Linked DNA regions of Homo sapiens. The protein of the gene in region 3 interacts with the protein of the main gene of each other region in a pairwise test. Each region holds a gene or a part of one and is shown on either strand. Other genes may lie near its edges. The genes, in order: DBF4B, AKAIN1 and ROPN1.

Region 1 (3,756 bases), on a different chromosome or scaffold from region 3:
CTAAATACATTTATATTTTAAAGTATTTTCATTTTTTGGAGTTGCATAGTGTTGCACAGTATGACTACACCATAATTTATTTAACCTACTGCCCGTTGTTAATCAATATTTTCGTTGCTTTTGATCTTTTGGTATTGCAAACAATGCTGAGGCAGATACCTTTATTATACAAATTCTGTCACACATGTGAAAAAAGAACATGCTGAACCATCTTGCCTCTTAAAGTTTCTGCTTGGAAGTGATGTCACTTTTTTCTTTTTTCATGAGCCAAAGCAAGTCATATGGCCAAGGCTTCGTTCGTTCATCAGGGCTGAGATGTATAAGCTTCCTCAGGGAGGAGTCCCACTGGAAGAGATACCAAGTTTATGTACTGTATATACCTCTACCAGTGTTTAAAAAATATCACCCTGGGCCAGGCGCGGTGGCTCACACCTGTAATCTCAGCACTTTGGGAGGCCGAGGCGGATGAATCACCTGAGGTCAGGAGTTCGAGACCAGCCTGGCCAACCTGGTGAAACCCCGACTCTACTAAAATACAAAAATTAGCCGGGCATGGTGGCAGGCACCTGTAATCCCAGCTACTCGGGAGGCTGAGGCAGGAGAATGGCCTGAACCCGGGAGGCAAAGGTTGCAGTGAGCCAAGATTGCGCCACTGCACTCCAGCCTGGGCGACAGAGCGAGACTCCCTCTCAATAAAAAAATAAATAAATATAAAAACTATCACTCTGGTTGCTGAATGGAGAATGGATTATACTGGGGAGAGATAGGAAGCTACTCGGGAGTAGAAGTGAAGAATTGACCGCAGTACTTTAGGCAAGAAATGATAGCAGCTTGAACTAGGGTGGTGGTGGTCTGATTCCAGATGTACTTTGGAGGCAGAGTTAGTAGGATTTTTTTCTTGGAGTGGGGATGGGCACAAGGGAAAGTACTGAAAGACAACTTCTAGGTTTTTGGTTTGAGCAACTGGGTGAATGATTGTGACATTTGAGTAAACAGTAACATTTTACTGAGAGGGGAAGACCTGGGGGGAGAACAGGTGGTTTTTTGACAGGGGCAGCGAAACAAATGTTCTGTTTTGAATGTGTTCAGCCTGAGGTGCCTATTAGACATCCAAATTGAAATAGCCAGTAGGCACTTGAATATGTGAGTCTGGAGATCAGACAGGTCAGAGCTACAGAAAATCTGAAGGTGTGGCAGAGCTGAATTGTAAAGCTGTGGAGCTGGATGAGATCTCCTAGGGAGATAAGGGAGAGGGATAAGGGCTAAAGCGTTGGCATACTCCAAAATATATAGGTGAACAGTGGCTTTGGATCCAGCAAAGGGGACTGAGGAGGAACCATTGAGATAGGGAAAAAAACGGTAGAGTGCTGAGTCATGGAAGCAAAAAGAAGAAAGTATTTCAAAGAAGGAATAGTCCATCTATAAGTTGGATATGATAAGGATAGTATTTCAGACTGTGGAAATCACAGTTGACCTGGATAAGTACAGTTTTTGTGGGGAGGTCCCCAGCTCTCCACTGAATGATCTCTTATTAGATCAAATTTGATCTCTAATTAGCAGTCTAATTAGATGGGTTGAAGAAAAGATGGGAAGTGAGGGATAAAGATACGTCTTTTGAGAAGTTTTGTTGGGCAGGTAATAATTGAAGAACGGGAGGGGGACAAAAATGTGAAGATGAAATGATGTGTAAGTGAAATCTTTATGTAAACTGCAAATGCTCTGCAAGTGTTAGGCTTATTTTGTTATTTAGTATTCAAACTTCTAGGAATTTCAATGCAGCTCAGTGTGAAGAATCACTAAAAAGCGACCACTAGTCCTCAACTTGAGGGCCATTAAGGGGCAAAGCCGTCTAGCCAGTGAAGAGCCAAGAAATGAAGAGACGGTTTGAGAAGACGTAGGCGGTGGGGGAACGGAAAGAGGAATCGCGAAACTAATATTGTCCTTCCAAGGACACCGTAGGGCGGATCTCGCAGCTACGGCGTTCTTTTAGGGGTGGAGCCGGCAGGAAATTTAAACTGAAGCCGCGGCCGAAAACGCCAAGAGATTGATGCTGTAGCTGCCCTGAGATAACCAGGACTGTGGAATCGGGAAGAGCTCATGGAGCTCGCGAATGTAATACGGAGGCCTCTGAGGAAGGAGTACGGAGGCCGAGAAGGAGCCGGCATTTGATGAGCGAACCGGGAAAGGGTACGGATGCCGGGAAGGGGAGAAAGAAAGGCGGAAGGGGTCGTTAATAGCTGAGGCGAGGTGCGGAGTCGTGGAGGGGGCTTAGGAAGTGACCAGCGGGTAGGTGCCGAAGCTGAGGAGGGTATAGGGGCCGGGAAGGAGCCACAGGAGTTGAGGGGACCGAGGAATGAAGGTGGCAGAGGAACGTAGGGGACAACAGCCTGGAGGGATGTATGGAGATTGAGATGGACAGGAGGTGGCCAAGAGGTCACGGCCGTTGACTGAACGGAGTCTGAAAGGAGGCGGAGGGCATGAGGGGCAAGAGCCTGGCGGGAGTCGCGGGATGTAGGTCGGAATGGAGTTGAGTCTTGCTGTTCCCAGGAGTCGCGTTTCTGTGCGCGTTTTGGGAGACAGTAGTGGGCGGGAGGCATGGAAGTTCCAAGGGTTGGTGAAGATGGTTGAGTTGCTGTTATGTCCTTTCTCAGGAGACGATTGCCTCGAGCTGGAGAGTTCCATGGCTGAGAGTAGGCTCCGGGCCCCGGACCTAGGTGGGTAACAGGACAGAACTAGGGACGTGAGGTGAAAATTGCCCCAGGGTCTCTTGGAGAAGACCGAAAAATGTTCCCCCTGTTGGAGTTTTCGATCACTCAGTGTTTTTATGTACTTATTTATTCATTTTATTTATTGGGATGGGGTCTTGCTGTGTTGGCCAAGCTGGTCTCAAACTCCTGGCCTCAAGCAGTTCTCCTGCCTAGGCCTCCCAAAATGCTGGGATTACAGGTGTGAGCCACTTCACCAGGCCCACTTAGTGGTTTTATGTGTGTGTGTGTATGGACGCAGCATCATAGACCGTTTTGGGATTCATGATAAAGGTCAAGTAAGAGTCATATTATGAACAAGATTAACAGACAGATGTGGAGTCAGGATAGAGTGACTTATTAAATATATAAATTAATACATTCATAGTTGTTTACAATAAAATCCTTAAGTTAAACACTGCTACCTAATTAGGTAAGTATTTTAGCACATGGCACTTCCCTCCGTACTGCCCCTTTAGTTAATATCATCTAGTTGGCCGGGCGCGGCTGCTCACGCCTGTAATCCCAGCACTTTGGGAGGCCAAGGCGGGCGGATCACGAGGTCAGGAGATTGAGACCATCCTGGCTAACACAGTGAAACCCCATCTCTACTAAAAATACAAAAAATTAGGCGGGCGTGGTGAGGCGTGCCTGTAGTCCCAGCTACTCAGGAGGCTGAGGCAGGAAAATTGATTGAACCCAGGAGGCGGAGGTTGCAGCGAGCCGAGATTGCGCCACTGCACTCCAACCTGGGCGACCGAGCGAGACTCCGTCTCAAAAAAAAGAAAAAAAAAATACCGTCTACTTTTACTTCTGGATTGTTAACAGATATGCCATCGGCTTGTTGCCTTTTAAACAGTAATCCACTTCATTTACTGAGTTATTCATTCTTCCCATCTCTTGTTGGTTTTTTTTCCCCCTTCTGTTTCTCTGGAGAACTTCAAGAGTGTTTTCAAAAGGAGGCTTTGTGTGATAAACTAAGAATATATTTATTTCAGCCTTGTAGTAAAAT
Region 2 (3,003 bases), on a different chromosome or scaffold from region 3:
GTGAGTGCAATCGGGAAATGCCAGATGCTTATAAAACCGTCAGATCTCATGAGACTCACTCACTTTGATGAGAACAGCACAGGGGAAACCGCCCCCATGATCCGATTACCTCCACCTGGTCCCAGCCTTGACATGTGGGGATTGTGGGGATTACAATTCAAGGTGAAATTTTGGGTGGGGACACAGCCAAACTATATCAAGATTTCTCAGGCTACACCTTAGTTTGAGGTTGTGGCAATGAGATAAATGAGGGAATTTGTACTAATATCTTTCGAAAACTTTCACATGCTCAAGAAAGATATTATTACCGTAATTTCCTCTTTCCTGTCTCTACATCTGTTTTGGTATTATAGGGGCTAAACTAGTTTCAGATTTTTCATAGATTTTATTATTTTACTGTATTTTACTAGACTAAGCTATTACAGTGGATAAATTAAAGATCCCTCTCTTTTGTATTGTTTTATCATAGAAACCTTAAAACAGCCTGGAAGATGGCCAGTTACTCATCTTTGAATGGCATAAATTCAATGATTATTTTTAAATGATAGATTCATTTCTTTGTAACCTGAAATTCCACCATAAAGGAAACCTAAACGGCTAAAAAATAAATAAGAAAAGAAATGAAGGGAACGAGTTAGTCATTTTGCATCAATTTACAATACTGTTTGCACTGAACAGATGATTACAGCAGAGAAAAGTAACATGAAAGGATTTCTTTCTTTAGATCCACCCTAGGGGCAGGCAACAGAGAAGACGAACAGCTGAACACACAGAGATGGGAAGCCTGTGTATGCAGTAAATCAGAAAGATAAAGGACACTAAGTAAATGTTCCCACTCATTTCTGAAACTAAAAGCTGTGATCTGGTTTATGATGATAATCAAGTGGAAATCCACCTTAATCCTATGTCAAATGAAGTTCTGTAGGCCCCTTGTAAAATCTAGTAACTTTTTCTTCATACTGAAAGATCTGTAAAAGTTTATAGGTCTTTAACTCGTTTGTTTTTATGACTGAGCTTTCTTAGAATTTTGCCAATATGGCACCTACCTATTGAGGACAGGCATTGCTGAACCTCCTTTTGTCCTCCCAACAACTTAGTCATATCTCTGTTCCTTGCTGTCGATTTTCCATCTCAAAAATTATGGCAGACACTCTACCTTCCAGACCCACTTACCTTGAATTTTTTAGATCAAAAGACCACTTCTTAGCATACATCCTTTTCTCTTCAAGCCTCAGGACCCACCATCCCATGGCTGTCCTCACACAGTCACAGTGAAGGGCCCATTAAGGAAGCACTTCCCCTGGTCATGATATCTAGGGGTTTGAAAATAGCCTTGGAAGTCTCATGGTTCCAAATAATGGTAAGATCCACGTACAAAATGAGCCAAACGGCAGAGTCTAGAAAACTTTGCTTAAGATATTTCAAAGCTGTATGTGTTTTATTTATAAATAACATTTAGACACAGAGGTCAATAAGATGTTCCAAAAATTCCCAATTTTTTAGTACAGACACATCAGAGAGGAAAAATAGTATGTTTATATGTTTCTGTCACTTGACAGCAAAAACAAAGGCTGGTCATATCCAGATATCTGAGTAGACATAGTACCAGATCACTTACAAACTACAAGCATTAGATTTATTTATTTATTTTATTTGTGGCACTCCTGAATAATTTCCCTGAATACCTTCATTCTCACTATGTATGCTATGCAATTATATCACATCAGTTATATGACTTTTGGTCGACTTAAACTCACTCTTCACTTGGCATGAATTCTGCTAAAAGAAATACTTGTGAGTAAACAATCTTTAAATTTTAAGCCCTTCTGCTTCCTTCTCCTTCCATGTTTCCTGTGAATTTATTCCACCTGTGCACTGTGGGAGATAGCATAACAAAGCTGGTAAGATATTTTTCATTCATTATCTATTATCCAACTATTTATTCTAGAAACTGTAGCATATTGGAATTTTAGAAGTATATCTTAATATCAGTCACAATTTATACCCGAATACTTTGCTTTAAAAAAAAATCAAATGTAGATATTGATACTCTGAAACTAGAAGGTTTTTAACCAAGGTCAAATTCTTCCTCTGTCCCCAATAGCACCAATTCAATAACTTTTGTGAAGCCCAGGAAATGGGACTGTAGATACTCCAGAAATATGTGCATTATCCTCACAGAAGTGGAGCAGGGATTGATCCTGTTGCTGCACAGATAACTTTATTACACGTGTACACACACATATCTCTGTCACTGCATTCAAAACACTGTCACTTTACTGTCCCCATTGTGTTCTCATGTATTCCTGACCTGTATGATTTTCATAATCTCAAAAAAAAAATTTAATGTGTGAATGGGAAAAGTTAGTAAGGTCCTAATGCAAATGCATAGCCTAGTGGCAAAACAGCATTCGTTAAGGACCCCAGAATCCCTTCCAAGGATGTTGCACCCCATAATCAGCCCCAAGTGTAAGTCTCTTAATGATAGGCAGCTGTTGAAGAAATCTACACTTCTAGCCATTCTCCATGAGGCTGCTAAGGAAATGAGTCATTGGCAACTCACATGTGTAGACTCACTTGTCTTATTTTATTTAATCTTGAGAAAAGAAATCCATAATATTCCCAAAAGATTTCTACACAGAGCATAAACACCAATTATGAAATCATTCAGAGAATTGAGACTAAAAGACTGAGTTCTTGAGAAACTTAAACTCCTCCCTTTCTTAAAATAACATAAATATTAGTAAATGCCTTGGTATGGTCCCGAGGGACTCAGCCTTAGAATTTCCCTTTTCTTAATTTGATCTTAGACCTGAACCCACTTAAAGCCTTCAATTTCACATTTGAAGGTAACTAAAACTGCATTCCCTCACCTTTCTAGCATGTCTTTTTAATATACCATAAAGAACTCAGTACTGTATTCAGTATTTCAGCAAAAAGGCTGCTTGTTAAATTCACAGAAGGAACGCATAAAAGGCAGAAGTAAATAAACGAGACATAGAA
Region 3 (3,756 bases):
TTCTCTTATTTTTCACATTATTTTCTCCTAACAAAGAAGTTATATGATTTTTCTTCATCATCACCATCACCATCATCATCATCATTTGTCCCTAAGAAAACAGTAGATTTTGTTCACTTTTTTTCCCATTGTGACTTGATTTGTTTGTGACTTATTTATTCTTGGCTTTTGATGTTAAACAAATATCCAAAATCTGATACTTAATGGACTTTTGTAATGACTTGTTTGTTTACAAAAATAATAAACATTTGCCTCTAAAAAAATAATAGAAAATAATTTAATGATTTAGTAAAGGAGACTCTAGGCCTTCAGTAAAGTCTTATAAAAATATTTTTTGGCTGGGTGCAGTGGTTCACGCCAGTAAACCCAACACTTTGGGAGGCTGAGGTGGGCGGATCACTTGAGCTCAGTTCAAGACCAGCCTGGGCAACATGGTGAAACCCTGTCTGTACTAAAAATACAAAAATTAGCCGGGCATGGTGGCACATGCCTATAGTCCCAGCTACTCAGGAGGCTGAGTTGGGAGGATGAGGTTGCAATGAGCCAAGATCACACCGCTGTACTCTAGCCTGGGTGACAGAGCAAGACCTTGTCTCAAAAAAAAAAAAAAAAAAAAAAAAAATCAAAATATTTAAATTATACTTGAAATAAATGATATTTATATTTTGTGAAAATCTAGAATTGTAATTACTAAATTAAATAATGTTTCCAAAATTCCCCCTTTACTTACCAAATGCTTAAGTTTTCAAAAATTTCATGTGATTTATTTAAAAATATTCTTAAGGACAGCCATATTTTCTTTGAAAACTGATTTGTTGTAGTCAAAAAGGCCTATAGTCTCCTTAAGTACTTTATATATATTATTTACTTTCCATCATAAAAGGTAATTTAAAATTAAATATTAATAATTTTTATTAATATTATTACAAAAATGGTTTCCAAAGTCCTCAGGGACATACAAAAGTTCCTGAAATGACCACACAGTGGCAGAGGCAAGGCAGCTATTGTGGGGAGCAGGGGTCCCTGATGGAGACTGTGTGTGCTGTTGCACTGGAGGTGGTGTTGAATGGGGGTGGGGTGCTGGCCGGTGCAAGTCCAGGTGACTTCTCTGTGTCCTGCAAGCAGGGGTGGTTGCTTAGGGTGGAGGAGGATCTGCTGTTCTCTGCACAGTGTTAGCACGAGGGAAGGTGTTGGCAGGGGTGGTGCTTGCTGGTTCTGTACCCTCCAAGGCTCTGTCTGCAGTGGCAGTCAGTGGGGGTCAGCAGGGGTGGACTACACTCTTGTGTGCTGGCGGGGCAAGTAAAACAAAACCTGCCTGTGCAGACATGGGCCAGCAAAGTGATGTGGGTAGTTGTTGTGGGCTCAGGGAAGCTGTAGTATGGGGAGGGAAAGTACTGGCTGCAGCATGCAGCCATAGGGGCCACCTTGCTGGAGCTCTCCACTGATCAGGCATGGTCCACCAGTGCAGAAGCTATGGTGTGGACCCCCAAGGCACCTGAGACTGCCCTGTAAGCAGGCATGGCCAGGCTTGTGCCTGGAAGAGGCCAGCAGACCAAGGGGTGCTCAGATCAGACCAGCCCCATCTGATGAACAAGACCGCCCTGCAGAGATCAGGTCCAACAGTTCCCCTACAGCTAAAGTCTCTTATTGGAGCAAGTTGAGCCTAGTGGAATGGCCATCCCTGGCCATGCTGTACTACAAACACTCCCACACCAAACTCTCTGGGGTCCACATCAGCTGGCTTGCTGCCCTACTTCTCTAAGCAGCTCTCCCTGCCACCTCAAGTTTCTGTGGTGACTGAGGGGTCCCCTCCTTCCAGGGTTCCAGTGGACCCTGGTGAGAGCAGGTTGCTCCTTGCTAGTTCAACTCACTCGTTCCCCCAGAGCTGTTGTGGTTCAAAAATGAGCTTCAGTGTATGGTAGCCTGTATGGGGTTCCCAGCTTTCTCCCCCTTCAGCCAAGCTTCTGTGCCTTCCCTCTGTCCACTGTCTGTGCCTTCCCTCTGAAGACATGTTAAAAGCACTCCAGTCATCTCAGTTCCTCTGTGGGAGCTGTTCCACTTGTCTGCGTCTAGTTGGCCATCTTGCCCTCCAATAAAATTTCTTAACCACTCATGTTTTTACATAACTCTGAAAAACGTTTAATGGATCTTCATCTCTTTTCTTATAAAAATTATGCCCTGTCTGACTTTCAAGATCTCCCCAATTTGCCTTATTCGTATTAACTTTCCTTCTTCAACTGTGTTTCACAGAAGCCTGGATCTTTTTCTATCCTGAGACAAACCCATGGCCAAGTCAACACAGCATTTGGATGCCAACAGCAATATTGCTAAGAGCAGTCCTACTTGACCTTGTCCTTTTTTTGAGTAGTAGTTTTTGGCTTTATTAGCAAATTTCCCAAACTTGCTTATATATCATGCTAGTATTACCTCTTGAAAGCATGAGTTCTACATGTTTATTATTTAACAAATGAATAGGTACCTCTTTTGGTTTATCTAAGCCATGCTCATATTTCAAAGATTTCCCTCGTGTTCATTCGCATCATCATCCACAATTCTAGGGACACATGGCTCATTTACAGACTGGCATGTAAACTATGTCCTGTAAAGTTGTGCAACATGGTTCCCTGATTTGGGGACCTGGTGTACACACTTGGGTCACCTTAGCCCTGTCTTATATAAGAGTATGAAAGTCTTTATTAAGAGTAAGTGTCATAATACCCCACACCATTTTCATCTTTTACTTGTCCTTCCTACATTTTTTTTTTTTTAGATGGAGTCTTGCTCTGTCACCCAGGCTGGAATGCAGTGGCATGAGCTTGGCTCACTGCAACTTCCACCTCTTGGGTTCAAGCAATTCTCCTGCCTCAACCTCCTGAATAGCTGGGACTACAGGTGTGTGCTGCCATACCTGGCTAATTTTTGTATTTTTAGTAGAGACGGGTTTTCACCATGTTGGTCAGGCTGACAATCAGGTCAGAAGGACAATCAGAAGTTGTCCTTCCTACTTCTGATTTCATTATAGCATTCCTGTGAGTCAGAGATTTAAAACCTACAAGCAAGGGCTCTGAGGGGGTGAATGCACTATAGTTTCCAATATAAGATTAGGGCTATGTTTCTCTTCAGTTTCCATTACCATTCCTGATGATATTCAGCATTGCACTGGCCTTTTCCAAAGCAAAACATAGGGCTGCTATCCTTCGTAGCTAGTTGTGGCATAACATCTAGAGGGCAGATGAAGCTGTAGTGAAGAAGCACTCTTGACTGTGAGGCAGGAGTCCAGGATTTTGGCCCTGGGTCTATTTATGACTAATTATGTGATCCTTAGGAAATCATTAATCTGACAAAATTTATGTGTTTTATTGGAATTGTGCTGAATACTGGGATACATGAATAAATAAGTCACACACTCTGCTTCATGGAGCTCACAGTCCAGTGGAAGAGAGTGACAGGAAAATCAGTGACTCAAAGAAGGTATAATAAGTGTCAAGAAGCCTGCACTAGATATAGAAGAACAGAAGAAAAACAGAAGAAAAACTCTTGGATGAGGCATCTAACATCTGCAGGTATTAGAAGGAGGTCAGAAAATACTTTTCAAAGAGTGGTGATATCTGAGATATCTGAACTGAGACTTGGAAAAACCTGGTTTGTTCATTGCTGTACTGCAAGCCCTCAGAAGACAGCCGGGTACAGGGCAGGTATTCAGTAAGCATATGTGTACTTATGAGAGTAAGGAGAGAATTTCATGTAGGTAGAAGG

What was found.
Region 1: the proteins of ROPN1 (region 3) and DBF4B interact in binary tests that used the Homo sapiens proteins (3 or more experiments, as listed by UniProt).
Region 2: the proteins of ROPN1 (region 3) and AKAIN1 interact in binary tests that used the Homo sapiens proteins (3 or more experiments, as listed by UniProt).

Annotation. Positions count from the first base shown.
Region 1 is NC_000017.11:44,706,653-44,710,408, forward strand, and holds the start of DBF4B (protein DBF4 homolog B), read left to right. Parts: upstream 1-2,012; 5' UTR 2,013-2,168; coding exon 2,169-2,187; intron 2,188-2,199; exon of another isoform or gene 2,200-2,286; intron 2,287-2,647; exon of another isoform or gene 2,648-2,651; coding exon 2,652-2,714; intron 2,715-3,756. UniProt on the Homo sapiens protein: Regulatory subunit for CDC7 which activates its kinase activity thereby playing a central role in DNA replication and cell proliferation. Required for progression of S and M phases.
Region 2 is NC_000018.10:5,142,264-5,145,266, forward strand, and holds the end of AKAIN1 (A-kinase anchor protein inhibitor 1), read right to left. Parts: 3' UTR 648-3,003; downstream 1-647.
Region 3 is NC_000003.12:123,985,397-123,989,152, forward strand, and holds part of ROPN1 (ropporin-1A), read right to left. Parts: intron 1-3,756. UniProt on the Homo sapiens protein: Important for male fertility. With ROPN1L, involved in fibrous sheath integrity and sperm motility, plays a role in PKA-dependent signaling processes required for spermatozoa capacitation.